3 separate regions of the Homo sapiens genome follow, and regions 2 and 3 are each linked to region 1. The links come from fine-mapping of genetic effects on gene expression. A gene starts in region 1. Each other region holds a variant in brackets. All regions are shown on one strand. Distances are from middle to middle.

What was found. PIP is the estimated chance that this variant, and not a neighbour inherited with it, causes the effect.
Region 2: its variant is fine-mapped to the expression of FMNL1-AS1 in whole blood (TOPMed, PIP 0.97).
Region 3: its variant is fine-mapped to the expression of FMNL1-AS1 in whole blood (INTERVAL, PIP 0.96).

Annotation. Positions count from the first base shown.
Region 1 is chr17:45,236,455-45,246,396 of GRCh38, forward strand. It overlaps FMNL1-AS1 (FMNL1 antisense RNA 1), which reads right to left and starts at 5,316. Exons shown (of 3, transcript NR_186808.1): 1 at 4,657-5,316; 2 at 4,036-4,150; 3 at 1,564-2,787. FMNL1 (formin like 1) reads left to right here. Exons shown (of 27, transcript NM_005892.4): 8 at 827-903; 9 at 1,092-1,185; 10 at 2,110-2,184; 11 at 2,501-2,611; 12 at 4,022-4,171; 13 at 4,675-4,776; 14 at 4,928-5,180; 15 at 5,393-5,692; 16 at 5,887-6,011; 17 at 6,664-6,866; 18 at 7,337-7,571; 19 at 7,722-7,790; 20 at 8,365-8,445; 21 at 8,525-8,654; 4 more. It also overlaps the pseudogene EFCAB15P. RefSeq lists an enhancer at 4,708-5,426 and a silencer at 9,024-9,194.
Region 2 is chr17:45,295,232-45,305,173 of GRCh38, forward strand. All of the region lies in intron 1 of MAP3K14 (mitogen-activated protein kinase kinase kinase 14), which reads right to left. Among named protein-coding and RNA genes, the nearest start is that of MAP3K14, 17 kb to the right of the region's middle. RefSeq lists enhancers at 456-515, 3,808-3,957, 7,698-7,747 and a silencer at 4,728-4,777. The variant G/A (reference allele first, on the strand shown) is at 3,909.
Region 3 is chr17:45,284,101-45,294,042 of GRCh38, forward strand. It overlaps MAP3K14 (mitogen-activated protein kinase kinase kinase 14), which reads right to left. Exons shown (of 16, transcript NM_003954.5): 2 at 6,390-6,665; 3 at 5,136-5,205; 4 at 3,054-3,264; 5 at 2,331-2,945; 6 at 712-849. The coding sequence starts at 6,645. Among named protein-coding and RNA genes, the nearest start is that of SPATA32, 27 kb to the left of the region's middle. RefSeq lists silencers at 6,371-6,574, 9,383-9,677 and an enhancer at 9,383-9,677. The variant C/T (reference allele first, on the strand shown) is at 5,958.

The sequences.
Region 1 (9,942 bases):
TACCCCTGCCCATGGCTGGGCATGAAGGAGCCTCACATAGGGACTGGGCTCACCTACCAAGAAGGGCTGGCCGGAGGGCCAGGGGAGAACAGCCTCGGGTCGATTCATTTGGAGGGCTGATGGGTGAAGCTGGGTCCTCCTTTACTTAGCCCGCCTTTAAGCCAGCTTCACGGTTTCCAAGGTGCCTGATGCTGGCTTTTGGAAACACAAAGGTTTTTAAAAAGAGGCCAGGTGCAGTGGCTCATGCCTATAATCCCAGCACTTTGGGAGGCCGAAGCGGGAGGATTGCTTGAACCCAGAATTTGAGATCAGCCTGGGCAACATACTGAAACCCCATCTCTATGAAAATAAAAAAATAAAAAATAAATAAAGAGAGGCCAGGCGTGGTGGCTCATATCTGTAATCCCAGCACTTTGGGAGGCCAAGGTGGGCAGATCACCTGAGGTCAGGAGTTTGAGACCAGCCTGGCCAATATGGCGAAACCCCGTCTCTACTGAAAAAAATACAAAAAAAATCAGTTGAGTGTGGTGGCAGGTGCCTGTAATCCCAGCTACATGGGAAGCTGAGTCAGGAGAATCACTTGAACCCGGGAGGCAGAGACTGCGGTGAGCTGAGATGGCGCCACTGCGCTCCAGCCTGGGTGACAGAGGGAAACTCCATCTTGAAAAAAAAAATAGAAACAAGGCCAGGTTTTGGTGGCCACAGAAGTTGCGGTTGGATACAAAGAACTTCCTAAACTCGAGGGCAGTTAAAGATCCACGTGGCGTGGGTGCCTGAAGTCCTGGGGGGCCCTTCCTGGAGACACTGACCTCTCCTCTCTCCCCAGTCTGGCTTCAGCCTTGTCATGAACCACCCAGCCTGTGTCAATGAGATTGCTCTGAGCCTCAACAACAAGAACCCCAGGTGAGGTCCAGGCCCCAAACCTTTCTCCGTATCTAGAGTCTTCTCCTACTTAGCCCCTTGCTTACTCTGTCCTCCAGGTCTCAGAGGCTCATTCTGCACCCACTATGCTCCTCCTAGCCAGGCCTGTGCCCACCCTTGCCGCGGGTCCTGCCTGTTCTCAAGGGACAACCTGCCCCTTCTCTCTCCAGAACCAAGGCTCTGGTGCTGGAGCTGCTGGCGGCCGTGTGCTTGGTGCGGGGAGGACATGACATCATCCTTGCAGCCTTTGACAACTTCAAGGAGGTACCGGAGTCCCTCACCCAAACATGCATTTCCCCCTATGGTGTTGCTTGGAGTCTTGTTGTTGGCAGTTGTGGCCTTTGCTGGAGGCAGCTGGGGACATTGGGTGGGCATTTGGGGAACGCCCAAAAGTTGAAGTTGAGCCACATCACTGGCTCAGCAATCTGGGATGGGGAAGTTCTGAATGGAAGGTACAGGGTCAGGTAAGGGCACCACCTGGGTGGGGGTAGGGACAACTACAGGGACCTGCTGAACCTCTGACTCAGCCTTGCCAGATCCAAACTAGCCTTGGTTCATACCTCCAGGAGTTGCGGACTCTGGCTAACAGGCTTGCAAGAAGTAGATGTGTGGGGCTGCATAAGATGCATAAGACAAGATATCTTCATTCATTCATTCCTTTAATGAATATTTATTGAGTGCCTACTATGTGTCAGGAACAGGGCACTTGGGCACATCAGTGAACAAAGGAAACCATATAGGGAAAGACAGAAACGATATAATAAACAAGCAAATTACATAGTATGTTAGGAAATGATAAATGCTGTGAGAAAAAAGCCAGCAATGTTGCAGAGGGAGGGGGAATTGGTTGCAGGGTGGTCAGGGAAGGCCTCACTGAGCAAGTGAGATTTCAGCAAAGCTGTGAAGGAAGCAAGGGACTTGGTGTGGGAGTGAGGGCACTCCAGGGAGTTGGAACAGTAAGTGCAAAGGCCCTGGGGTGGGAATGTGCCAGGATGCCAGTGTGGCCAGAGTGGAAAAAGTGAGGGAGAGTGGGAGATTGAGAGGGAGTGGAGGTTTTGAGCAGAAGAGTGACGTGGCTCAACTTAGAATTAACTGGAGAGGAGCCTGTTGAAGCACAGGTGTGGCAGCCAGAAGGTAGCTTAGGACGTGTGTCACTGGGCCTCAGTGAGAGCCATTCCCCTTACCCAGGTGTGTGGGGAGCAGCACCGCTTTGAAAAGCTGATGGAATATTTCCGGAATGAGGACAGCAACATCGACTTCATGGTGAGCTCAGGAGCCCAGCAGCCTGAGGCCTGGGCCAGGCCCTCTTGGGTGCAGGGAGCAGCTAGGGTCCTGGGTGCTGGGCAATGGGCTCTGCCCCCGCAAAGCGTAAGGACTGAGTGGTCAGTAGGGGAAGGGTGGATGTTGGCAGGGGGCTGGATTGAGGGAACATGGAGGTGAAATGTTGGGCAGGCCAAGGCTGGGAGTTAGTGGAGTGAGAACTGTGGAGAAGGAGGGAGGCTTGGGGTAAGTGGAGGTGGAAGGCATTGAGCAACCCCACCTAGAGGATCATAGATCTCCCCATGTCCCTGGCTCCCAGGTGGCCTGCATGCAGTTCATCAACATTGTGGTACATTCGGTGGAGAACATGAACTTCCGTGTCTTCCTGCAATATGAGTTCACCCACTTGGGCCTGGACCTGTACTTGGAGGTAAGCCCTGTACTGCCCCCCAGACTGAACTGCCTGCCCACGGCAGAGTATGGCTGAGTGGTTAGCAGCATGAGTGCTGGGGTCAGGTAGACCTGGGTTTAAATCCTGGCTCTGCCGTTGCCTGCCGTGTGACCTTGGATAGGCCTCTTCCTCTCTCTCAGTGTCAGTTTTGCCATCTGTGAAATAGGAGAATCATAGAAGATAATCTTGACTCTAAATGCATAGACCAGTGCCTGGCACATACCAGGCCCCCAGTCTATGGAACTGTTTTTGCAGGCACCAGAACAGGTCAAGGTAGCCCAGAGTCTGGCTCTGGGAGCACCAGCCTCAGACAGGTGCTCTGACTCCAGCATATAATGGGGAACCCAGAGATACAGGGTAGAAGCAGGAGTTGGCTCATGCTGGATGGGCCCAGGACATGGAGGAGTTCCCTGCCCTGGGGAAGGTGGGCAGAGCTGCTTGGTGCTTCCTGGCCCAGGCTGAGCAGAGAAGCTGCAGCTCCTTCTCTGCTTCCTTTGGGAGGTTTCCTGGAGGAGCGGGGCTTTCGGGGTTGGATTTTTGAAAGCCAGGATTAACAAAAGGTAGAGAGCAGGCTGGCGGGGGGGTCTATCTGTGCAATGGAGTATTATTCAGCCACAAGAAGGAATGAAGTATTGACACATGGTACAACATGGGTGAGCCTTGAAAACATGCTAAGTGAAAGAAGCCAGACACAAAAGGTCACGTACTCTATGATTGCTTTTTTTTTGAGATGGAGTCTTGCTCTGTTGCCCAGGCTAGAGTGCAGTGACACGATCTTGGCTCACTGCAACCTCTGCCTCCCGGGTTCAAGTGATTTTCCAGCCTCCCCAGTAGTTGGGATTATAGGTGCCCACCACCACACTCGGTTAATTTTTGTATTTTTGGTAGAGACGGGGGTTTCACCACGTTGGCCAGGTTGGTCTTGAACTCCTGACCTTAGGTGATCCGTCTGCCTCAGCCTCCCACAGTGCTGGGATTACAGGCATGAGCCACCTCGCCCAGCTATCTATGATTGCTTTATATGAAATGTCCAGAATGGGTAAATCCATAAAGATGGAAAGTAGATTAGTGGTTGCCAGGGACTGGGGGAGGAGAGAATGGCAAGTGACTGCTGACGCCTGTGGGGTTTCTTTTTGGGCTGATGACAATGTTCTGGAATTAGATAATGGTGATGGTTGCACAACCTTGTGGCTATACTAAGAATGACTGAATTGTACACTTTAAAATGGATTTTATGATTTGTGAATTATATATTAAAAAATAAAGAAAAAGTAGGCTAGGGCTCAGGCCCCTTCCTCTGGATGGCAGTGGTGGCAGGGGGGTGGTTTGGAAAGACTCCCCCCCACACACACACCAGGCCTCACCCCACTCCTTCCATCTGGGGGACAGAGGCTTCGGCTCACCGAGAGTGACAAGCTGCAGGTGCAGATCCAGGCGTACCTGGACAATATTTTTGATGTGGGGGCGCTGCTGGAGGACACAGAGACCAAGAACGCTGTGCTGGAGCACATGGAGGAACTGCAGGAGCAAGTGGCGCTGGTGAGAGTGGGTCCTGACCCCAGCCCAGCACATCATAGGCCCACAGGGCACACGGGCCACAGGGCCACGCAAGCATGGGCACTGGGCAGCAGACAGTGTTATAATTGTGCATTGGAGGTGCTGCCTGCCTGGCCCCAGAGCCTGGCCTGAATCCAAAGCCTGAATCTGTTGGGTGTCTTTCTCAATGAGTGTGGGTGAGCACCCTCACTGACAGGCCCCTCCTCTACCCAGGCTCAGACCCCAGGTGAACTGAAATGGGTGCCTGGGGCCCCTCCCAGCTCAGTCTCCTCCTCTCCCTCCACCTCCCGCATCACTGGTACCTTGGTTTCCTCTCCTTATTTGCTTGGGTTCGAGTGCCAGGCTCGGCCCACCCTTGGCACCTGGGCTGAGCGGATCTGGGAGCCTCCCCCAGTCTTCCAGGCAGGCATGCCTGATGCCGCCCCCTCACCGGCGGTGCCAGTGCCGGGCTGCGGGTCGGGGCTCACCATGTGCTGGTGCTACAGCTGACAGAGCGGCTTCGGGACGCGGAGAACGAATCCATGGCCAAGATTGCAGAACTGGAAAAACAGCTAAGCCAGGCGCGCAAGGAGTTGGAGACCCTGCGGGTGAGGCTGGGGCGGGTGGTAGGCCAGGCGCCCAAGAACAGGCCAGCTGAGGCTTCTAGGCTTGACATCTCCCTCCACCCCGGGAAGAAGATGGAGGCTTGGTGCCAAGGAGCCTGCTGGTGGGCACTGACCCCTCCCGTGGGGTTCGTAGGAGCGCTTCAGCGAATCGACCGCCATGGGGCCCTCCAGGCGTCCCCCAGAGCCTGAGAAAGCGCCTCCCGCTGCCCCGACGCGGCCCTCGGCCCTGGAGCTGAAGGTGGAGGAGCTGGAGGAGAAGGGGTTAATCCGTATTCTGCGGGGGCCGGGGGATGCTGTCTCCATCGAGATCCTCCCCGTCGCTGTGGCAACTCCGAGCGGCGGTGATGCTCCGACTCCGGGGGTGCCGACCGGCTCCCCCAGCCCAGGTGCGCAGGAGCTTCAGGCTGGCGGGGATGCGGGGCAGGGTCTGGAGGGGAGCCCAGGGGCATCTGTGGCGGGCAGAGTTGGGCGAGGGAGGTTTGGATTGTAGGCTCGGCTCAGGTAGGAGCGCATGCGTAGAGCGGAGAGGCGGAGAGGGGCCCACCCAAGTCAAGGAGCTGACTCGCGCCTCCCCCACGCCGCGCCCTCGCTGGCTCAGATCTCGCACCTGCAGCAGAGCCGGCTCCCGGAGCAGCGCCACCGCCGCCGCCCCCACTGCCCGGCCTCCCCTCCCCGCAGGAAGCCCCGCCCTCTGCGCCCCCACAGGCCCCGCCTCTCCCTGGCAGCCCGGAGCCCCCGCCTGCGCCGCCGCTGCCCGGAGACCTGCCGCCCCCACCCCCGCCACCGCCACCACCTCCGGGCACTGACGGGCCGGTGCCTCCGCCGCCGCCGCCGCCGCCGCCGCCTCCCGGAGGTCCTCCTGATGCCCTAGGAAGACGCGACTCAGAATTGGGCCCAGGTGAGTGGAGTGGACCACCTTGGGCCCGGGGCTGGGGGGAGATGGAGGGAGGGGCCTGGGCCTCAGTGTCCTCCAGGGTCCTCTGCCTGGGGGCCTCCTGCTGCCTCCTGGCTGCCCCATCAGCCCTCCCTGGGCCCAGGTTCCCTCCAGTAGTACCCCCAGTGCTCACCACTGCCCCCAAACCCCCGTCCCAGGAGTGAAGGCCAAGAAGCCCATCCAGACTAAGTTCCGAATGCCACTCTTGAACTGGGTGGCACTGAAACCCAGCCAGATCACCGGCACTGTCTTCACAGAGCTCAATGATGAGAAGGTGCTGCAGGTGAGTGGCCCTGCCTGGCTCCCCATGTGGGCACCGGAGGAAGAGGGGAGTTGCCTGGATCAGGCTGGGCCCTGGGGGTAGTCATTTTCTCCAAGCCATTTCACAGATGAGGAGGGGGAGGCCCAGGGATGGGCATTAAGCCAGACTGGACCAATACCTCTAACAGGCAGAATCCTGCTTTCCCAAACGCCTTCCCCTCCATCCCTGCAGAGGGGTGCCTCCCCTCACCCCACTTCTTCTGCCTCCAGGCCTCTTTCCTTCCACTTTCCCACAGGCAGCCAAGGCTTCAGCCCTCCTGATTCCACTTCCAGTTTTCCAAAAGGATGTATTCTCTTGCCTCTAGGCCATTGTTCCATTCTGTTTCCTCTGCCTGGAATGTCTTTTCCTTTCTCCTTTTTACCGCTGGCCAGTTCAGCTCTTCCTTTAGCTCTTGTGGCCCCAAGTCTGGATCCCCCGGGTTAGGCGGCCCTCCTCCTCCAGGCTCCCTGTGCTTCCCCTGTGCCTCCCATCAGGGCCTGTGGTCAGGCTGGGTTACTGGTTCTCTGCTGGTGGCCTGGTCAGGGCCAGATGGATGGCTCTAGCACTGTGCTCAGCCAGGAGAGTGCCAGACCCCAGCCCCACCCAGCTCCGCCTCCTCACCCTGTACCTTCAGGAGCTAGACATGAGTGATTTTGAGGAACAGTTCAAGACCAAGTCCCAAGGCCCCAGCCTGGACCTCAGCGCTCTCAAGAGTAAGGCAGCCCAGAAGGCCCCCAGCAAGGCGACACTCATTGAGGCCAACCGGGCCAAGAACTTGGCCATCACCCTGCGGAAGGGCAACCTGGGGGCCGAGCGCATCTGCCAAGCCATTGAGGCGTGAGTGTCCCTGTCCTGGGTTTGTGGGCAGTCCGGCCCCTTTGCTAGGCTGGGGTTGTCAGGCAGATCCTAGTAAAAGAGCCTCAATGGTGAGCTCTTTCATCAGGCTTCATACCAACCCTGGTCCAGGAAACTTGTCCCCATTTTAAGGTGGAGAAAACTCAGTCCATGCCTAAATTAGGATGTCCCACTTCCTCCCTGCCTCTTTGCCTAGCTGTGAGCACCCAGGCTGTGGGATTTACAGCCGGGCGTCCGCCGCTGACGTACGATGGGGACCCTGGCTGCCCAGTTCCCAGTTTCTCTGGATTCCCAGTTCCCAGTTTCTCTGGATTCCTACCTCTTGCTCTCTGAAGCTGTTGGCAAATAGAAAATACTGAAATTCATTTATTCAATCAAGGCAGGGGTAGCCCTGCTCCCAGGGACTGGTGGGTATGGATGATGCCCAATCTCCCCTCTCCTCCCTCTCACAGGTACGACCTGCAGGCTCTGGGCCTGGACTTCCTGGAGCTGCTGATGCGCTTCCTGCCCACAGAGTATGAGCGCAGCCTCATCACCCGCTTTGAGCGGGAGCAGCGGCCAATGGAGGAGCTGTCAGAGGAGGACCGCTTCATGCTATGCTTCAGCCGCATCCCGCGCCTGCCGGAGCGCATGACCACACTCACCTTCCTGGGCAACTTCCCGGACACAGCCCAGCTGCTCATGCCGGTGTGGGCGGAGCGGGCAGGGCGGTGTGACTTGGGAGGGGATGGGCAGGAGGCAACTCCCAGCCTGGGCTGCGGCAGGGAACCTGGGAGTACTTGAGCCTCCAGATGGAGGAGGCTCCAACTTATCTTACCTCCCCCATCCCACCCCCAGCAACTGAATGCCATCATTGCAGCCTCAATGTCCATCAAGTCCTCTGACAAACTCCGCCAGATCCTGGAGGTGAGGGGCCAGGAGGTGGGGCCCACCCTTGCCTGTTCTGGATAGTGTGAGAGGGAGACCCAGGCCCTGCTCACCTGCAATGCAACAAAGATAACATTCCCACTTCTCATGTACATGCTGAGAAGGACAAATCTAAGGGTGGTGGCGAGTGGGAAGGGGTACAGCAGCCGTGTCTGTAGCAGCTCACCTGGGACCCTGCCGGAGGGCTCAGTCCCCTTTAGCGTTGCTCTGTGAGCAACCTCACCTGCTCAGTGGAGGGCCCGGGAACCAGTAGAAATGGCTGGTGGACAGGCAGTGACCACACAGACTAGGAGGGGATGCTGGCAACAAGTTGTGGGTTGGACTAGCAGAGGACAAAATTTGGTGTGCCCATGGTGTTAACCGTGCACATGTGTGAGACCTGTGTGTACACACATGTACATGTGCTGTGGATCTGAGGGGCCTGTGCAGGAGTACAGTAGGGGCTGAGTGTGTGGGGCCTGCTCCTTGCCACCTCTTCTCCTCCTTGTGCAATATGCTTAAGCGGTGTCCTCAGCTCTGGCATTCTGCTGAGCCTTTCTCCTGCCTCTCCCAGATTGTCCTGGCCTTTGGCAACTACATGAACAGTAGCAAGCGTGGGGCAGCCTATGGCTTCCGGCTCCAGAGCCTGGATGCGGTGAGGAGGGGCCCCTGGCTTGGGGACTGGGGCTGGGGACTGGCTGGTGGCCTGTGGCTTACAATGGGTCCTTGTGCAGCTGTTGGAGATGAAGTCGACTGATCGCAAGCAGACGCTGCTGCACTACCTGGTGAAGGTCATTGCTGAGAAGTACCCGCAACTCACAGGCTTCCACAGCGACCTGCACTTCCTGGACAAGGCGGGCTCAGGTAGGAGACACACAGATCCTTGGGTGTGGGGAGGGGCCGTGGGCTGGGGTAGGTTGGGAGAAAGCTAGGGGGCCACAGTATATAATTGGTGGGAGGGCTGCCTCTCCGATTCACTGACCTGATACTGCCCCATCCCTGGCCCAGTGTCCCTGGACAGTGTCCTGGCGGACGTGCGCTCCCTGCAGCGAGGCCTAGAGTTGACACAGAGAGAGTTTGTGCGGCAGGATGACTGCATGGTGCTCAAGGAGTTCCTGAGGGCCAACTCGCCCACCATGGACAAGCTGCTGGCAGACAGCAAGACGGCTCAGGTGCGCCAGGGCTGGCCTCACCTGGAGGTGGGGCATGTAGGAGCACTAGATAGCACAGCCTGGAGGGGTGTGGCCGTAGCTGGGACCCCTTGGGGGGATGCAGCAGGAATGAGGGGCCACCCTGCCTGGGAGGAGCTCAGATCAGGTGGCCAGTGTCCTGAGGGGTACAGGCTGTGAGAGGTCTAAGCTGGGGGGCTGACAGGCTGTGCCCACAGGAGGCCTTTGAGTCTGTGGTGGAGTACTTCGGAGAGAACCCCAAGACCACATCCCCAGGCCTGTTCTTCTCCCTCTTTAGCCGCTTCATTAAGGCCTACAAGGTATTCGGGTCTGGGGCAGGCTGGGAGCCCTGTAGGGCACTGAAGCCTTTCTACTGGGCAGCGGAGGGGTGGGGCTGCTTCTGTTTAGGGGGTGGGTAGGGCAGTAGGGAGGGCCACCCTCATGGAGACTGCCTTGGCCCACAGAAAGCTGAGCAGGAGGTGGAACAGTGGAAAAAAGAAGCCGCTGCCCAGGAGGCAGGCGCTGATACCCCGGGCAAAGGGGAGCCCCCAGCACCCAAGGTAGGCAACTGCTCCTGGGCTTGGTACTGGGCTGCAGGGATGCATGGCATCTCATCACCCTCTGGTGCCACCCCCACACCCTCACTGTTACAGACTGACCCTGCCCCAGGAGCCTGGGATGGGAAAGGGTTCTTTCTGCTCAAGCCAGCTGTCCTTGCTGTGGGGGACCAGGCAGATATTCCAGGGTTTTGGTGATGGGGAGGCATCCTGGAGCTGGAGCTATAAATTCCCCCTAGTCACCGCCAAAGGCCCGGCGGCCACAGATGGACCTCATCTCTGAGCTGAAACGGAGGCAGCAGAAGGAGCCACTCATTTATGAGAGCGACCGTGATGGGGCCATTGAAGACATCATCACAGGTAAGGGCTTGGCCAGGCCTTGGTCTTATCCTCAGTCTGTCCTTCTATGCTTTCTTCTGACCCAAT
Region 2 (9,942 bases), 59 kb after region 1:
TTTTTAAGAAGAGCAGTGGGACCATTTTTGTCAAATGAAATCATACCTCATCTCCCAATAACTAAAAGAACCAGATGCATGCAACTGGCATGTAACTCACATTTGAACCCGCTGCCCTGGCTGAAGGAGCTCCACATGCTCAGTGTCCCTTCATCCACCGAGGACCTCTACAAAATCCCTAGTTCTCCAAGAAAAGAGTTTGGAAACCAGCGGCCTAGGAAATCTTTTGAGGTTCCTTCTAGTTCTGAGAATGTAGCCCATCTGTCAGGATTCTTTGAGGGCTGGACAACTCCAACTCAGAATACTAACTGTCGATACTTACAAAGTACCTACTGTCATCTCATTTTCAGACATGAAGATATGGCTTAGGGAAGTGTAGTAGCACACCAAAAGTTACGCAGTTGCAGGTTGCAGAGGTGGGGTTGAACCTAGACTGCTGCCTCCTAAGCCGACATCTAAACCTTGAGCTAGCCACTTCTTTTAACTTCTCTGAGTTTCTTCTCTTAGCTCCTTCAGAGCTGTTTTGAAGACCGAATGAAGACGAGTACATGAAATGCCAATCAGGTTGCCTGGCCAACAGAAGAGGCTAAATGAATGTTCATTCCCTTGTCTGTCACCAGGCTACTAAAAGCCATCACTGAGAAGATGGGACTTCTCTGTTTCAGCACCATATAGCCAAGGTATCTTGAGCCTTACCTAGTTCATGCAATGCTTGGAGCCTTGATTCTCCATACACGAAAGGGAAATAAAACTCTGTCTTACAGGGCCAGCTTGAAAATGTCTACAAGGGGCCAAGGCAAATCCCTCTCATGACTATTTCATCTGGAAGTAAAAACTTGTCCTTCTCTGAATGCCCAGAGGGGATAAATAGCAGAAGTAGAATGACTCAACTTCCTTAATAAGATATTGGTTGAAAACCAATCTTCTCCCAACTTCCTCTTTTAAGTCTTCAGCTTGCCTGGCCACCAGGCCACAATAGGCAAACCTCTGCCTACTCAAAGTGCGGGGCTGGGCTGGGTGCGGTGGCTCACGCCTGTAATCTCAGCACTTTGGGAGGCCAAGGCAGGAGGATCACTTGAGACCAGCAGTTTGACACCAGCCTGGACAACATAGTGAGACTTCATCTCTACAAAAAATTAAAAAATTAGCCAGGCATGGTGGCACACGCCTGTAGTCCTAGCTACTTGGGAGCCTGAAGCAGGAGGGTTGCTTGAGCCTGCAGTGAGCCATGACTGCACCACCGCACTCCAGTCTGGGCAACAGAGCAAGACCCCATCTCAAAAGGAAAAATAAAGAAAGAAAGAAAAGGAGGGGAAAAAAAAAGAGGGAACCAAGGGCAAGTATCAGGCAGAGCAAGCTGGCCTGGCAAAACAGCCATCTGGCGAGGCAGACTCAGAAGTCCCCATACATGCTCATCCTGACTCCCCTTTCTACCCTTTCTGCCCTTCCTACAGCCCTTCCCCCAGTTTGTTCCAGACTGATTCCTTCACTTGCCCGAGCAGGGCAGCACTGGGCAAGCCTCTGATTCTCTTCTTCTGCCCACCCTGTTCCTCCCATAGGGAGTGGCTGCTTGCCTTCCTCCCTTATCAATGTCTGCCCAGATCTCACCTATCCTTTAAGGCCTATCTACTCAATGAAGCCTTTTATGGTAGGCTTCTGCATCCACCCTATAAACATTCAATGAGTGTCTCCCAAGTGCCAGGGAATGTAATAGCCACTACCGTCCATAAATGTCTTCTGTGTATGGGGCACTGTGCCAGGAACTCTATCTGCCTTGTTAATGCATTCCACACCAACCCTGCAAGGTTGGCAATATTATCTCCAATTTTACAGATGAAGAAATTAAGGCTTAGAGAGGTACATTACCTACAGGAATAAATGAGGCTCAATTTATACAGTTAGAGCATCCAACATGGAGTTAGGGCTCAAGCCAGGACACTCTTGGCCCATTCTCTTAGGACCCAAGGATCTCTAGTTCCTTCCTAGAATAAAATCTGGTTGGCAGAGGCATCTAGAACATCCAGGAACTGAGCAGTATTACTACCCATGTGGATATTACTACCCCTAGCATCTGCCCATCTACTGTTGGTAATAATTCCTTAGCCCAGGTAGACAGGAAGCAGACGAAGATCCCTTACTGATGAGGGGTCTTGTCAAGTCAGGGCTGAATCAGCCATCAATTTGTCAGACTTTTAGTTCAGTTACGCCACTAAATCCTGTTATGTTATGTGTTATGACTTAACTTGATGGTTTTAACAGGTCGTTTCATTTTCTTGAAACAATCAAACAAATGCACATCTAATACACACATACACAAACAGGAGTTCTAGGTAAGGTGGCACTGCCTTCACTGAAAGAACCACTGAAGGATGTACTTTGCAAAGAAAAAAGTAAATAGGAAAAAGAAACAATGGTAGGCACAGGAACTCAAACAATATGTTGGTCAATTTAATTAACAGTTGAATATGAGAAATTGGTTTAAATCTTTTTTTTTTTTTTTTTTTTTGAGATGGAGTCTTGCTCTGTCGCCCAGGCTAGAGTGCAGTGGCACAATCTTGGCTCACTGCAACCTCAGCATTCTGGTTCAAGTGATTCTCCTGCCTCAGCCTCCTGAGTAGCTGGGATTACAGGCATGTGCCACCACATCTGGCTAATTTTTGTATTTTTAGTAGAGATGGGATTTCCCCATGTTGGCCAGGCTGGTCTCGAACTCCTGACCTCAGGTGATCTGCCTGCCTTGGCCTCCTAAAGTGCTGGGATTACAGGCATGAGCCACCATGTCTGGCCAGTTTAAATCGTTTTAAAACATGAAAATCTAGACACCAACAATAAGGAAGATGGGTGAAATGGGTTGTTCAATGGGTAAAAAGTAACATGATCCTTGCCTTTTTGGGGACTTTATGTACAACAACTTTTAAATTTTATTAGAAAAAATTACAGTTAGTATGTATGTTGATTTAAGAGTAATGACTAAAATAATAGAAATACAATTCAGACCAGAAGAATAAAGGAGGAAAAATAGAAAATGCTGTCAATCTGATACAAGGCAAGGCAAGGAGGAAAAAAGAAGCAAAAAGGACAATAAATATAAAATAAAAACACAAGATGGCAGAAATAAGGCAAAATATTAGCATGTCATTAACCACAGTACATGTGAGTAGATTACAAAACAGCAAACCAGATTGGATTTTAAAAGATCCAGCTAGATGCTGACTAAAAGAAACAAAACAAAATTATCCAGAAAAGTTGGAAATAAAGACATAGAAAGAGATGTGCCAGGCCAATATTAACCACAAAGAAGTAATATTCGTATCAGACAAAATACTTAAGACAAAAAGATATAATCACTTCTAGGCACCCGATAAAGAGCCTCCAAATCCAATGACTGGAGGCAGGCTGAGGCTTTATGTTGAGTAAGGTCTTGGCCCCAGAGTGTCCTGTCTAGCTGCAGAGCAAGGATCTTATGCGTGGCAGTTCCTGGGCATGTACTAGGTCTGCTGGGTGTTGGGCCCCGTGCTGAGTGCTGGCAGTACACTGAGGAAGAAGACACTGTCCCTTGAGGATCTTACAGTCTACTGGGGGAAACAGACAAGAAGTCAGAAGAGTTCAGTACAATACAGGGATGCAATGACAGAGATAGACACACAGCAGATGTGACGGGAACACAGAGCGACACCTAGTCCAGCCCAGGAGGTGATGCCTGAGCTGAGTCTGAAGCAGTGAGCAAGACCTGCCCAAGAAAAAGGAGAGGGTGTTCTGGGTAGAGGGGATGGCAAAAGGTAAGGCACAGAGGTGAGTCAATGCAGCAATCACCAGCAGCTTGAAGTTGTCAGTGAGTAAAGCGTAAGTCAGGCAGTCCCAGGAGAGGAGGCTGCAGATGAAGTTCAGCTATCAGACCATGGACACAC[G/A]CTTGATCCTCATATACCCCCAGGGTTTAAATTCTCAGATGAGTGAGCGGGGTATAATTCCACATTCCTCCCAGACTCTTGGGGGTAAAGTTCCAGATGGCAGAAGCTGCAGAGTAGGGGCAGATGGCACTGGCCAGGCACAGTGCCTCATTCCTGTAATCCCAGCATTTTGGGAGGCTGAGGCAAGAGGATCACTTGAGCCTGGGAGTTTGAGATCAGCATGTATAACATAACAAGACTGTGTCTTTATGAAAATAAAAAAAAAGAAAAAAGAAAAGAAAATCCTGCCATTGGTACAGAACCCCCACCCTGGCCTGGGCTAACAATCTGACAAGTGACAGGCTTCTGAAAGGCTTGCTTCACTCTCTCCCTCAGGCGGAGAAGGAGAATGGCCATGTGATCCCTGGGACATAGAAACAGATGTCTGAGGAAGGAGGAAGGGGCCTTACTGGGGCCTGCACTCAGGCACTGTGAGTGAAACGCAGCTGGAGGAACCTCAGAACTGGACTCATTGGCCTGCTTGAGGCCTGCTTCCCAGGAGAGTAATTTCTGAATAAGCATTTCCCATTAAGGAGGATATGAAATGTGAAGGTACATTAATCATTAAAATCTTACAGATCAATTATTAAAAAGAAACAAATCTGACATGCCCTCAAAAACTCAGTCTCGGCCAGGCATGGTGGCTCACGCCTGTAATCCCAGCACTTTCGGAGGCCGAGGCAGGTGGATCAGTTGAGGTCAGGAGTTCAAGACCAGCCTGGGCAACATAGTGAAACCCTGTCTCTACTAAAAATACAAAAATTAGCCAGGCATGGTGGCGCGTGCCTGTAATCCCAGCTACTCAGGAGGCTGAGATGAGAGAATTGCTTGAACCTAGAGGTGGAGGTTGCAGTGAGCCGAGATCGCGCCACTGCACTCCAGCCTGGGCAACAGAGCGAGACTCCATCTCAAAAAAACAAAACTCAGTCTTGCTGCCAATCCCACAGGTCAAACTGCAGGGTAAATACAATTTATGGGGTAAAGTTTCTGACTGTCCTGCAATTACCACCACATGCCTGATGATGGCTGGCCGGCCCTAGCCGTGCAGAAACTACTGTCTATAAGGCCCCTTCAGATGTTTAGGGCAATTCCCTCGCATCTATTCTATTGGCATTGGTCTTACCCACTTCCAGCTTCTCTCTGACCTCCCACCCTGGCGCTGAGCTAATCTTGAAACATCGTGTACTTAAGACAACCTCAAGCTCAAAGACATCTGCTGGCTCTGCACTGCTTATGGGCTCAGTCTCAGCTCTGTGGTCCATAATCTTTTTGGCCATTGTTTCCCCAAACATAGGGTTTGGCTTTGGCCAGTCTGATCTCTCTACAACCCCTTGGCTACTCAACTCTCCAGGTCCCATGTGTGCCATGCTGTTGTGTGGGCCACCCCATACATCCTGCTTGTCCTTCAAAGGCAAGGCTCAGCCTCTACCCAGGAAGTTCCTCCCATCAGCTCCACTGTACAACGGCCTCCTTTTCTGCCTGCCCACAGCACCTTGTCTCCTCTATCCTCATCCTCCTCCTGGTCCTGACACCCCCACTCCCTTTTACTCATTCAATGAAACAATGTAGATGAAGGAACTCTGGGAACAATAAAGCATCATAGCAAGTGAAGATACCCACTTTTTGTGTGCACAACTCACAGAATTGCAATCTAAGTAGGGAACAAATTAAAAAAAACAGAAAAAAGCATAATCAAAAATGTTTAGGGCTGAGCATGGTGGCTTATGCCTGTAATACCAGCACTTTGGGAGGCCAAGGCAGGAGGATTGCTTGAGTCCAGGAGTTTGAGACCAGCCTGGGCAATATAGTGAGACCCCATCTTTACAAAAAAATACAAAACTTAGCTGAGCATAGTCACACGTGTCTGTAGTTCTAGCTACTCAGGAGGCTGAGGTGGAAGGATTGCTTTAGTCTAGGAGTGCAAGGTTGCAGTGAGCCATGATTACGCCACTGCACTCCAGCCTGGACAACAGAATGAGATCCTGTTTCAAAAAAAAAAAAAAAGCCGGGTGCCATGGCTCACGCCTGTAATCCCAACACTTTGGGAGGCCGAGGCAGGCAGATCACCTGAGGTCAGGAGTTTGAGACCAGCCTGACCAACACAGAGAAACCCCGTCTCTACTAAAAATACAAAATTAGCCAGGCATGGTGGCACATGCCTGTAATCCCAGCTACTCAGGAGACTGAGGCAGGAGAATCGCTTGAACCTGGGAGGCGGAGGTTGCAGTGAGCTAAGATCATGCCATTGCATTCCAGCCTGGGCAACAAGAGCGAAACTCCATCTCAAGAAAAAAAAAAAGTTCACAGTATTTCTATAACAGTAAAAAAACTGGAACAAAAAAGTCTAATTACAGGGGAAGGATAATTATTAAATAAATCATGGAACATCCATTAAAAATGTTTATAAATCATTTTAACAATATGGAAAAATGGGATATTAAATTAGTAGAAAGAGGATACAGAAGCATATCTAAAATACGACCCTATATACATGTGTCGGTATATTACAATGATATTTATAAAAATGCAGATACCTAGGACATATAGCAATGGTTCTCTTTTGGTGGTGGGCTTATGGATGATTTAATATTTCTTTTTATACCTTTCTAATTTTTCCACTTTTTCAGTGAGCACATATTAGTTTTCTCAGTTCTCTTTTTTTTTTTTTTTTTGAGATGCAGTCTCACTCTGTCACCTTGGCTGGACTGCAGTGACACGATCTCAGCTCACTGTAACCTCTGCCTCCCAGGCTTAAGTGATCCTCCCATTTCAGTCTCCCAAGTAGCTGGGACAGGTGCGTGCCACCACGCTTGGCTAATTTTTTGTATTTTTGGTAGAGACAGGGTTTTGCCATGGTGCCCAGGCTGGTCTTGAACTCTTGAGCTCATGAGATTCACCTGCTTCAGCCTCCCAGAGTGCTGGCATTACAGGCATGAGCCACTGCGCCCGACCTTGGTTCTCATTTTTAACAGATAATGTTTCTAAGTGGTTAAAAAAAAAAATACAGAAGGGGTGCCATTGAAAAGCATGAGTCCTTCCCTCCATTCCTATAAGGGGATCCCCGTTAACAGTTTCTTGTATCTCCCTCTACTGATTTTCTCTGTAGGTATTACTTTTATTCATTTTTATTATTGTTATTATTTTTATGAGATGGAGTCTCACTCTATTGCCCAGGCTGGAGTGCAACGGTGCGATCTTGGCTTACTGCAACTTCCGCCTCTTGGGTTCAAGAAATTCTCCTGCCTCAGCCTCCTGAGCAGCTGGGATTACAGGCGCCTGCCACCACACCCGGCTAATTTTTCTATTTTTAGTAGAGACCGGGTTTCACCATGTTGGCCAGGCTGGTCTCAAACTCCTGACCTCAAGTGATCTGCCTGCCTTGGCCTCCCAAAGTGCTGCGATTACAGGCATGAGCCACTGTGCCCGGCCAAGTATTACTTTTTAATCATGAAAACAACTAAAAAAGAATCTCTTGGCATGGGATGAGAATTTAGGAAGCATTAGGTCCACACTTGAGATTGGGGCTTTATAAATATGTGATGAGCTGGTTTCTCCAACCGTGTGCGCGCACATGCACACACATGCAAGCACAAACCCATGTGTGGGCAGGAAACTTCACCAGAAAGTCTGTGGCTCTTCTGTTCTGCTCACTGAGTTCTGGCAGCTGGGCCGCAAAACAGAAGGCTGGAGATGGGCAAGCTTGTCCTTCCTGGTTTTGGTTTTCATTTCATTCCCTCCCTTGTTCTCTGCTGAGGACTGAGAGTTTTATCAGTTGTGACTCAAGAAATAGGAAGGTGCTCAGAAGATGCGGACTGTTTCCTGCTTTGATTTATCGAATGGCAAATGCATGCGTGGTTACAGGCCCGTGCTAGTGCTGGATGGACCACATGCCCCTGGGCAAGAGTGGCCCCCCAGAGTGAAAAACAGCAGAAGTGGACCAGGGAGAAAAAAACCAGCCCTTCCTCCACTGCTTGCGCAAAGGGGTGGGAATCGCAGGGTTAGTCCTAGTCTGGGAAACCCAAGGGAGGACAGTTTTCCTAGCTAGCCTCTCCTGCCTTTCTTATATGTGATCTTTAACCTTGCTTAAAAATTTTTTTTCAGGCCAGGTGCAGTGGCTCATGACTGTAATCCCATCACCTTGGGAGGCCGAGGTGGGTGGATCACTTGAGGTCAGGAGTTCAAGACCAGCCTGGCCAACATGGGGAAATCTCGTCTCTACTAAAAATACAAAAATTAGCTGGGTGTGGTGGTGGGCACCTGTAATCCCAGCTACTTTGGAGGCTAACGCAGGAGAATCACTTGAGCCCAGGAGGTAGAGGTTGTAATGAGCCGAGATTGCACCACTGCACCCCAGCTTGGGCAACAGAGTGAGACTCCATCTCAAAAATTTTTTTCCAATACCAAAATAATTGTTCATTGTAAAAATGTAAACAAAACAAAATTGTATATAGAAAAAAAATCCCGGCACCGTCCCGTCCTCTCTGCAACATAAAAAACACTTAAGTTTCATGTAAATCCTTCTAGTTCCAATTACTATACATATATAAACATATAGTTTGGGACTTTTTTTTTTTTTTGTATTTTTAGTAGAGACGGGGTTTCACCGTGTTAGCTAGGATGGTCTTGATCTCCTGACCTCGTGATCCAGCCGCCTCGGCCTCCCAAAGTGCTGGGATTACAGGCGTGAGCCACCGTGCCTGGCCTAGTTTGGGACTATTTTTAAAAGAAACATGGATTATACACATGTAATGTCATACAAATTGTATCTTTCACTTAAGATACTATGAATACTATTCCATCTCAGCACATTTAGATTTATTTCTTTTCTTTTCTTTTTTTTTTTTTTTTTTTTGAGACGGAGTCTCGCTCTGTCGCCCAGGCTGGAGCGCAGCAGCCCATTCTTGGCTCACTGCAACCTCCGTCTCCCGAGTTCAAGTGATCCTCCTGCCTCAACCTTCCGAGTTACAGGCGTCAGCCACCACATCCGGCTAATTTTTGTATTTTTAGTAGAGACGGGGTTTCACCATGTTGGTCAGGCTGGTCTTGAACTCCTGACCTCAAACAATCCACCCGCCTTGGCCTCCCAAAGTACTGGGATTACAGGTGTGAGCCACCATGGTTGACCTCTAATTCATTCTTTTTAAGGCTTCATAAGATTGGAAGGTACAGATGTATCATCATTTTCCCACCTGGAAACTTTGTTTCCAATTTTTCACTTATACGTAATAATGGAAAAAACTCTACCCTTATTCACATTTATGTGTACATGTAGAAGGAATTCTAGGTGGTAAGCTCTTGGGATTGGAATTTCTGGGTGACTCTTTTGTTAATGGGTTATATCTTTTCTCCTGTTTCTATGTGTCAGAGAAGTAGATAGCATCAGATAGGTGGTTTCCAAACATTGTATTATTTATTTGCTGTGAAGATGCTATCCTTGCTTTCAACATGCCTATAGTCTAGATGGGGAAAAAATGGGTAGATGGATAAATAAATCATAAAGGAATAATCAAAGTGCTCTTAGGATCAGAAAGACCCTCAGAGGTAATTTCTTCCAACATATTACTTACTAATCCTGAGGAATGGCCATTCAGCTACATGACAGGATGGCCTTGGAGTCAGAAGATCTGAGTTTGAATCTTAGTTTCTCAATACTCTGGTGTGTGACCATGGGCAGGTCACATAATCTGAGACTCAGGAGTCTTATCTGTAATATAGGGATCCTCAAACCTACATGATAGAATTTTACACGGTGACTCAATGCAAGGAACAAAGTTTAAATTACATAGCACAGTGCCTGGCATGCAGTGGGCACTCTGGAAACATCAGTGGAACCTCCAGTGAGATGGAAGCCGCTACAAGATGAGCAGTCAGACCTTTGTATGACTGGAAGTGTAAGATTTTTTTTGGTTTTATGTTTTTTTATTTTTTTTATTTTTTGAGACGGAGTCTTGCTCTGTCGCCCAGGCTGGAGTGCAGTGACGCAATCTCGGCTCAC
Region 3 (9,942 bases), 48 kb after region 1:
CAGTGAGATGAAGGGGTGGGAGGGGTGATTCCTGTCTTCTGTCTCTACTCAAAACTCTAGGACAAGAAGTCTATCTTCTTCCCTCTTCTTCCTGAAGAGTGGTTGAAAGCCGAACTCTCAGGTCAGACAGACCTGGTCTGATTCAGGGCTCTTGCCACCCGGCCAGTGACTTCCTGTCTTGCCAAGCTTCATGTCCCCAACATGTCTGTCTTGCAGGACTGTGGCACGCCTGGCCAACAGGGGGCACAGCTCCGACTCTGGCAGATCTGCCCACTCCCACTGAGGCTGGCTTCCTCCTAGAAGCACCCCACAGGTGGAGGCTACTGCTTTCCTATCATCTGGCCCAGGTCAGGGGCGGCCTCCTATGTGGTTCAGGGGTTTTACCTCAGTGTGAATTTCATGACGCTCCAACCATCTTCCACGTTGGGACTTGCCCCTCAGGCCCTGGCTGTATTGAGACACCGAGGCCACGTGTGTCCTCTCACACTGCCTCTCACATACACACATGCCAGGGGCAGCAGCCAGGCCAGGACACGTGACAGGCTGCTCCCTTCCAGTTCCAGCCGACCTCAGGTGGCTAGTGATAGCCAAGTTCTGTTCACAAGTCAGACCCACGGCCACCCTGCGACTGTCCTGGACAGAAAGCAGAGGGAACACACCAGGCCCCCTTCCTGGCTTCCCTCTTCACTCAGCCCCTGAGCCCTGGCGTACCTTTTTGACAGCGCACTGGAAGCCAGTCTGCTTGTCCTCCATCCTGTGCACCTCTCCGAAGGAGCCTCTGCCCAGGCGGAGCTGGTGCGTGGCCCAGTGGACTTCTTCTCGGTACTCATAATCCACTGGCTTGAGTTTCTGGGGTTGGCAGGAGAGAGAGGACAGTTTCAGTGGCCAGGGCAGCAGAGGGCTACAGGGCTACAGTGAGGAAGACTCTCCAGCTGGTGACCTTGCCAGGGCTGCTGAGCTGAGCCCTCACAACCAGGCAGCCCTGGGGCGAAGGCAGGGATCTGAGCCGGGCAGCACCAGAGAGGGGGCAGAGGAATGAAGTGAAGGCGAGGGAAGGGTTCATGGGCTGCGGCCACTGATCCTTGTGATGAAAAACATCCCAGACTTGTGATGGTGAGACAGAAACAGAACTGCCAATCACCTTGACAATGAAAAAACAAAACTCAGGAGCTAGAAGGTGGAGGGAAGGGAGGAACAGTGAAGAGGGGCGGGGGTCAAGGATGATGTTAAAAGTGGATGGAGGGGCCAGGCATGGTGGCTCACGCCTGTAATCCCAGCACTTTGGGAGGCCAAGGTGGGCAGATCACTTGAGGTCAGGAGTTTGAGACCACCCTGGCCAACATGGTGAAACCCTGTCTCTACCAAAAAACACAAAATTAGCCAGGCATGGTAGTGCACACCTGTAGTCTCAGCTACTCGGGAGGCTGAGGTGGGAGAATCACTTGAACTTGGAAGGGGGAGGTTGCAGTGAGCTGTTATAGTGCCACTACACTCCAGCCTGGGCGACAGAGTAAGACTCTGTCTCAAAACAAAACAAAACAAAAAAATTAAAAAATTAAAAAGTGGATGGAATAAGACAGTGCAGTGGCTCACACCTATAATCCGAGCACTTTTGGAGGCCAATGTGTGAGGATTGCTTTAGCCCAGGAGTTTGAGACCAGCCTGGGCAACATAGCAAGACCTCATCTCTATTAAAAAAAATATAGCTGGGCGTGGTGGTACACGCTTGTAGTCCCAGCTACTCGGGGGGCTGAGGCAGGAGGATTGCTTGAACCCAGGAGACGGAGGCTGTAGTGAGCTATGATTGTACGACTGCACTCCAGCCTGGGTGACAGAGTGAGACTCTGTCTCAAAAAACACATTTATTAAAAAAAAAAAAAAAAAGTGGATGGATGGAATAAAACCCGGAAATCAAAGTTTGATAAAATCATTTAAAGTTATAAAATTATTTGGGAAGTTAACAAGAGGAAAAAGGGAAGGAGGTGGGTGGTGAAAACAGGTCCCATCCTCATCTTCCGTCTCTGGGGGCCATGATAACATCTCCAGTGGCTCCTGGCTGATTCCCCTTGTCCTCAGCATGTGTACTATTAATGCAGTGCCCACATTCAGCAAGCAGGAGGTGACCAACCAGAAGAACTCAGAACAGAAGACGCTAAAAAGGCTGTGAGAAGTGAGATTGGCGGAATAAGAGATGATACTTTTCATCCACAATGAGCACTGTCCTACTGTTTGATTTGTCACCACAGGCAAGAGTGACTCTGATAAAGAGAGAAAAGCATCCCCCAGGTTGCTGGTAGAGGGACATATACAGGTGCCGGGGGATTAGTTACCTCAGTGAGCAGGACACCCTCGTTGTCCTCAGTTTTGGGGCTGGGCTCCCGGGATCTGGAGCCCCTTGCTGCCCAGGTCTTGGCCAGGCTGGTCAGGCTGTGGGCCTGGCCTGAGCTCACGCTGCCTTGCAGAGCATGCACTAGGTATTCCTCCACAGAAAACTTCTCATGGGCACCACGAGACAGGCAGCTGGGCTCCAGGTGTGGGCCAGGCAGGGGCTTTGGACTGTCTACACAGGCCAGTTTGCTCAGGTGTGGGTCAGGCAAGGGTTTCTGGCTGTCTACACAGGCCAGTTTGCCCAGGAAGGACTCCAGAGGGTGAGGTTTCCAGGGCTGGAGAGGGTGGAATGGGAAGGGATGAGGCAGTCTGCTATAGGGGAAGGGGTGCGTGGGCAGGGGCAGGGGGCCTCCGTCCTGGGGGTGGTGCAGTTTCCACACGTGGTTCAGACATTGCAAGGGGCTGATCAGTTTGTGGAGTTCTGATCGAGGCAGAGCCGGCCGTAGGCCCTCGCCAAGCTGCTTAAAACAGAGTTGCCCAAGGCCTGGTTCCTTCAGAGGCTTGGTGAACTGCGGGGTGTTTCTAACATATGGGGCGCCGAGTGGAGACTCATCCTCCTGCGGGGGGAAACACAGCTATCAGCACAGAGGGCCAGGGCCCAGGGACAGGCTCCAATTTCAAGGCCCCATGAACCTGGGGTCTGGGCAGTGGGTGGAGGGTCTCACCTGCACTGGGATGGTGCAGCTCTCCTGCTCAGGGGTCCTGGGGAGGGGTTTGGCCAAGGCCACTCCTGCATGAGCCAGGGACTTTGAGCTCTTCTTCTTCCGTTTCTTCCGGGCTTTGCTGCGACGCTTTCCCTTCCAACACACACGGGCCATTTTGCCCTCTGTAGCATGGGCCACATTGTTGGGGATCTGATCAAGACTCTCGGACTGGCTGTCACAAAAGGGACAGATTTGCATATTGAGCACGAGGAAGCAGGAAGATGGACTGGTCCAGACACTTGTATCTGGACTCCTGCAGATCCAAGGTCAAATCCCAGGTTGCCATTCCTTGTGTGAATGCGGCAAGGTTTCTAAATCCCAAGGAACCTGTTTTCTCACTTATCTCACTTATAAAATGGGTTTGGTATTTTCTGCCATACAGGGTGGAAATGAAGTTTCAATAATTTAGTTCATTTAAAAAGCCCAGCTCAGTGTCTGGCCCCAAGGCAAGCTGCCGAGAAGCTGTGCTTGTTACTATGGTGATGGGGTACAGACTCAGCACTTCTTGGGGAGAGTCAGGGGAGCAGACACGGTTCGCTCACTGCTCTCCAAGGTGAGCTGCCCCTGGAGAGTTCCTAGGAGGGGGCCACGCTCATGGCAGGCCTCTCAGCTCTGACTGAGCAGAGCTTGTTTCTGTTGCCTCCGGATGGAGGAACAGGTAAGGCTGGTCACCTCCATTCTCACAGTTCCTGGGGGTCCCTGGCTGCTGTTGAAGGTGAACAGCCTGGGCTGCTGCCTGGTACTGGGGAGCCTGCCCTTCTCTGCTGGCCTCGGGGCTCATCACTGCCATGGCTCTAACTGGACTGGGATCCCTGCCAAGTATTAAAGGACCCGGCAACAGATGGGTTGCTGCAGAACAGCTGTGGAGCAGATCATGGCCTCAGCCACCCTCCCTTGGCCTCATCTTCTGCCCCCATGGAGAAGGCAGACTCATGGCAGTCCTGGGGACCACTGGAGGCCTACAGGCTTCTCTTGGACAGCTGAAAGAAGTGTGTCTATCAGAGGCTCCTACCCTGGGCCAAAAGGCACCCAGGACAGCAGAAGGAATCCCACCAAACTGAGCATTTCTTGGTTCCAAGGCAGCCAGCTGCCCTCCCCACAATCTTATCACTAGCAGGTTCCAAACTCCAATGATACAAAACCTGCCTGGTGATAGGGGAAGGAGCTGTTTCTAGCTTGAACTCTTGTTTTTTTTTTTTTTTTTGAGACAGAATCTTACTCTGTCACCAGGCTGGAGTGCAGTGGCACAATCTCGGCTCACTGCAACCTTCGACTCCTGGATTCAAGCGATTCTCCTGCCTCAGCCTCCTGAGTAGCTGAGGTTACAGGCATGCGCTACCATGCCCAGGGAATTTTTGTATTTTTAGCAGAGACGGGGTTTCACCATGTTGGCCAGGATGGTCTCGATCTCCTGACCTCGTGATCCACCTGCCTCGGCCTCAGAAAGTGCTGGGATTATAGGTGAGAGCCATTGTGCCCAGCACTTGAACTCTTGTTTCAAAAAATCATCTGTGGGGGAATGCAGAGCCTGGGAACAGACTCAGCCCCACCCTGGCTTCCTTTCTACCGGGCCACCAAGTCTATCTGTCCCCTCCTTTTCTACCGCCCGCATCCCTACTCGGTGCATCTCCCAGGAGAAAAGGCACCAGCAGGTTTCTCCCATAGAGGACAGTGGAAGGCCCCCCCCACCAACCCGGCCTGCGCTCACGGTCACGCAAGAGTGGGAAGCAGCTTCTGTTCCCAGCACCCTCCCTGTTGATGGGAAACGAGGGGGTGCATTAAGGACTCTGAGGAGAATAAAAATAAAATGTCAAGTTGATGTGGCCCAGAGGCAGTCAGCCACAAGCTGTGAAAAGCCTTTGAAAAGCTTATTTGGCTGAGAGAGCGGCTCAGCCAGGAAAGCCTGGGTGAGTTCCAGGAGCTGAACCACAGGTGCTGAGGGAGGGAGCCCGGGGTCAGCAGGAGCGGCCCAGGCAAGTGCTGGGGACGAGGGCGCTGGGTCCAGTCCCCACCTTCCCACTCAGGCTTGTCTCCCCTGCTTACCTGTACTGTTTGGACCCAGCGATGAAAATGCGTTCTGAAAAGGTGGGGCTGAACTCTTGGCTATTCTCACCTAAAGCAAAAGGAGTTGGATTAGCAGAGAGGAGAAAAAATAGGAATTTAGCACTTAGGGGAGAGACATTTTACAGAGATCCCCTCTGGCGCCTCTCCTTCCCCTCCTTTCCAGACAACCCCTGTCTGGCAGTCACCTCCCCACCAATGCCTCCTTCCCGCACTGTCTCTCCCCAGCTTCTCAGCTTACTGGTCAAGAGCAGACCACGGCCTCAGCCACCTGCTCTGAAATAGCCAAGCCTATATTATGGGGATCACAGGGCGCCCGCCTCACTTCCTATGAAGCTGAAGTGAGATGATCTACAGAAAATGCTCAACACAGTGCCTGGCTCATAGGAAAAACAGCTATTAGGTATTTATATATGTGTGTACATATAAGTGTGGATATATGTGTATTTTTTTAAAACAATTATTATGTCACTCTCTGTATTTTAGTTTTTATTCTCTCATCTCTCCTCAAAAACCAACCAGGAGGAAGTGGGAGACGAGGGCAGGATGTATGCGTGTGGAGAAATGACAGCATGGCTGTCCAGCTCTCCAGGTTCCACCCCAAGAAGCCTCCCGGGTTGAGGGAAGGCGTTGGAGAGAGAGGACTCCCGGCCCTACCCAGGCCTCGTGGGAGTTTCTGTCTCCAAGGGAAGCCACCATTACTAGTCATCATAAGGTATCATGAGTAGAAGAAGAAAGGACCAGACTAGGTCTCACCCTGCAGCAGCCTGCCGCCCCAGGACTGGCCCAGCAGGCTCAAGAGCA[C/T]GGTGCTCATTCCTGGGGGTGGGGCCACCTCTAGGTGGAAGATGGTGAAGGCCCTACAGGCCCCAGTGGGGCTTTCCAGGAGACCTGGCCTTTCCTGTCTGGAGCCTCTCCAGACACTGGGGCTGCTCAAGGTCACAGCAGAAGGTTGATGGCCTGCTTGATGATTCTGCAGAGTCCCGAGTGCTCGTCTGTTACCTCTCTTCCCCTGCTCCAGTCACGATGGGCACAGTCTCCCCTTGCCACATCCACCATCTGTGCACTTTTACAACCCCACTTTCCATGATTCTCGGCACAGACCTCTGGTTGTGTCTCATGAGAATCTTATCTAGCAGTGACACAGACCTCTCTCCTCCATAGGGAACCCCTGGGCCCAGCTACCCACCTGCAGGCCCACCCACCTGCCCCGTGCCCACAACAACCCTAGGCCCCTACACTCAGCCTGGGCGATGATAGAGATGGCAGCTGGCCCTGCCTCGGAGCCTTCCTTGGCTGTGCCCTTGGTAATCACGTCATTCAGGATCTCCCACTTTCCGCAGAACACAGGGCTCTTCTCCACGGCCTCAAGCTTGTAGACGGAGCTCTGTTTCTTCCCCAGTGGCGGCGTCTTCTCCTTGGCTTTGGGGAGTTCCTTCTGCTGCCCCACTGCTGAGCCAGGGGCACCTGGGCAGGCCATTTCCATCACTGCCATCTCCCAGGCTTGTGCTCATCCTGAGAGAGACCAAACACAGAGCAGGTCACTTAGAATCCCAGACCTGGGAGAACACAGGTCAGCCTTGGGTTGGGGGAGAAAGGCAGGGGCAAAGGGTCTCTGCCTGTTTATGTGTGCCTCTGCCACACATACTCATCCTCCAAACATCCTCAATGGTAACAGAGTCCACCTCTCAACAGCTACACGTTCCACACGGCACAGTCCCCCGGTCCTCCCAGTACCACAACATAAACAGCCTCCTTCACTGTGTCCAGCAAGGATGCCAGCCCACTCCCTCTAGGAGAGCTGTGGCACAAATGTCTGGGTTGGCTCTTTCTTGCCTTTATGATGGCTCGATCTTTTTCTGTTGTTTTATGGCAAACTTTGTTTCCCCAGGACAGGGTGGTGAATCCCAGACTCCAAAACCATGGCCTCACTGACCCCACATAAGCCTTTGGAGAGGACCTGTTGGCACACACCATCCACAGCGACTTTTCTCCAAGTGGAGAGAAGCAAGGTTCTATTCTGTTCCCTAGTAGGAGGTAGATATCTGTGTGTGTGTGTGTGTGTGTGTGTCCTACAAAGTCTAAAACTCAGCATGCAAATGGTGCTCAGCACGTGGTTCCTTGCCCAATGCGTCTGTTTGTGGCTCTCCAGAAGGAACTAACATGCTTCCTCCTCTAATGTCCAAACTCATTGGCTGAAAACTTCTAGGTATCATTTTTCATTCAGGCAACATCAGGAGTAGAATTTATATTCAAGGCCCTAACACGAACCTATACCTCTAGAAATAAAGAATAAAGCATAAGAATTCACGTCTCTCTGGGTTCTGTCTTGCCCAGCCCTAGGAAGCTGCAAAGAAGAGCAACCCAGAGTTGCCAACAATCTGTGCAAACAGCCTGCAGACTGGAATTGGCAAAAAAGAGAAGAGCACTGATTTGAGACTGTTACCATTTGGAAACCTTTTTAAAGGCTGGGAGTTTTTAAAGGGCAGGGCCCCTCTCAGGCATGACTTGCTTTAGAAACAGCCTGAGAAGGTCCCAAATGCAGACAGATTTTTAATAACTGCTCTCTGATGGTAGGTTTGTCTTAAAGCTGCTACCAGCAGAAATCATCTTCCTTGCTATAACTCTGTGAACCCTGGATCACTTCTCTGCTTCTGGGGCAGACAGGTACACCATCTGAAGCTGAACTCTAAGGCCTCTGGCCTTTTGCCCTGTGAGGCCTGAGGACTGAATGAGATGGTGGGAAGCTGAGGTACTAGGTTGAAGCATTCCTCCTTCTGAATCTGCCTCACTGGTCTTCCCACCTCGATGGCTATGAAAGGCTCTGCCAGCTTGGCTGGCGGGTGTGGTGGGGTTTGTTGTTCACTATTGATTAGTTCCTTGCATCTCTGTCTTTAAGGGTCTCCTAGCTCTGAACTTGGAGCAGCTCCAGCTTCCTGCAAGGATGCCTGGATTTGGTACCAAACGCCAGATGCTGAGGAGGCTGAATGGGTGGCCTCACTGTTACCTGAGGATCTTAAGAAGTCTGAGGGGGCCGGACATGGTGGCCCATGCCTGTAATCCCACCACTTTGGGAGGCTGAGGCAGAAGGATTACTTGAGCCCAGGAGTTCAAGATCAGCCTGGGCAACATGGTGGAACCCTGTCTCTACAAAAAAATACAAAAAATTAGCTGGGGTAGCTGGCCTGTAGTCCCAGCTACTCTAGAGGCTGCGGTGGGAGGAATGCTTGAGCCCAGGAGGTTGAGGCTGCAGTGAGCTGAGATTGCACCATTGCATTCTCCAGCCTGAGTGACAGAATAAGACCCTGTCTCTAAAAGAAAAAAAAAGTCTAAGGGGTGTTCTGACATCCAATTAGGCAAAAGCCCTTCAAGGCTGGCTATGCTTCTTGTAACTGTACTTTCATCCCACCTCACACCTCCCCACCCCACTCTACCTCCAAAAAAGAAACTGACCTAAGCCCAGAGCCGATCCCACTGTTCTCAGCCTCTTTACCAGGGGAAATGAGATCTTAAGAACAGACCAAAAAGTCTCCAAACCTAACAGCAGTAGGGAATGCTCACAGGGAGCTCGATGTGAGCGTGACCTCCTCATTTCTATTTGAAGAAGCTGAGGCCTAATTCAGTGGAGACTTGCCCAAGGTCACCCAACCCACGTGTGACAGGACATGGCCAGGATCCAGACCCTAGGTTCTTTAGGCTATGATGCCCACTCCCCAAGCTCCTGGGTTACAGGCAAATGCAGGAGGGCACACTAAGGTCCTCCCTGGTCAACAGGCTCCTGAGGGAAGAGGTGGGGCCCTGCACACAGTGCCTCCCCAGTGTATAGCACAGGGGCCACAGACCACGCAACTGACGCTGGCTGAACGAGGGACTCAAAGGACAAAGATTGCTTTTCCATAACCTTTGGAGACAGGATGATCCCGAATGCTGAGGAGGAAGAGAGAGTCCTGCCTGATGAATGAGAAAAATGAGGCCAGGTGGTGCAGTTGCTGCTCTGAGGGGCACGTGGCTATTAGAGATCTGGCTGTGTGGGGGCTCTGATAGCCTGTCTCCGCCTGGCATGGCCCAACGGAGGCTTCTGGATAGGTCATCCTGAGCTAGAACTCCTCCAGAGGGGGTGCAGGGCATCCCGAGTCCCAGAGTTGTCCTTTCATATTGGTGTTAGGTAGGCAGCTGTCCAGCGCCCCTCTGTGAGCACACCAGGCTCCCCTCTTCCCAGAGAAGTGGAAGCTGAGGCTGAGGCAGCCACGCTCAGAGACTCCTTTGCAGTTCCCCGATGACTCATCCAACAGCCTGGCAGGCAGACAGTAACAAGGAGGCTGTTGAGAAGCTGACCCAGCAGATGGCAGCTGAACTTGTGAAGGACATGGGGAAAACAGGCTGACCCTCACCTCTCAGGGGCACAAATCACGGCCTGGGAGCTGTAAAGCTCCTCCTGTGGCTGGCTTTTCTGTGCCACATCACCATGACTCAGACCCTCACCGACAGCCTCCAAGTTCAAGAGGCTATTCTTGGGACACTTTGGCCTGACAGTGGCTCTCCCCAAACACCACCTCCCACACAGACACACATGCACACACACACATGCACACACAGACACACACACATACGGATGCACTTGCTCCCTCCCTCCTTTCCTAATTCTATCTGGACTCTGGTCTACAAAAATCATGGTTCTGTACTAAGTCCAGGACTACTGGCCAGGGGGCCTTCCCAGCCCTGGACTTTGGTCTCTGGCTGTCACCCCAGCTCATGGCCCTAACACTTTGCCCCTTCTCCCTCCTGCAGCGTG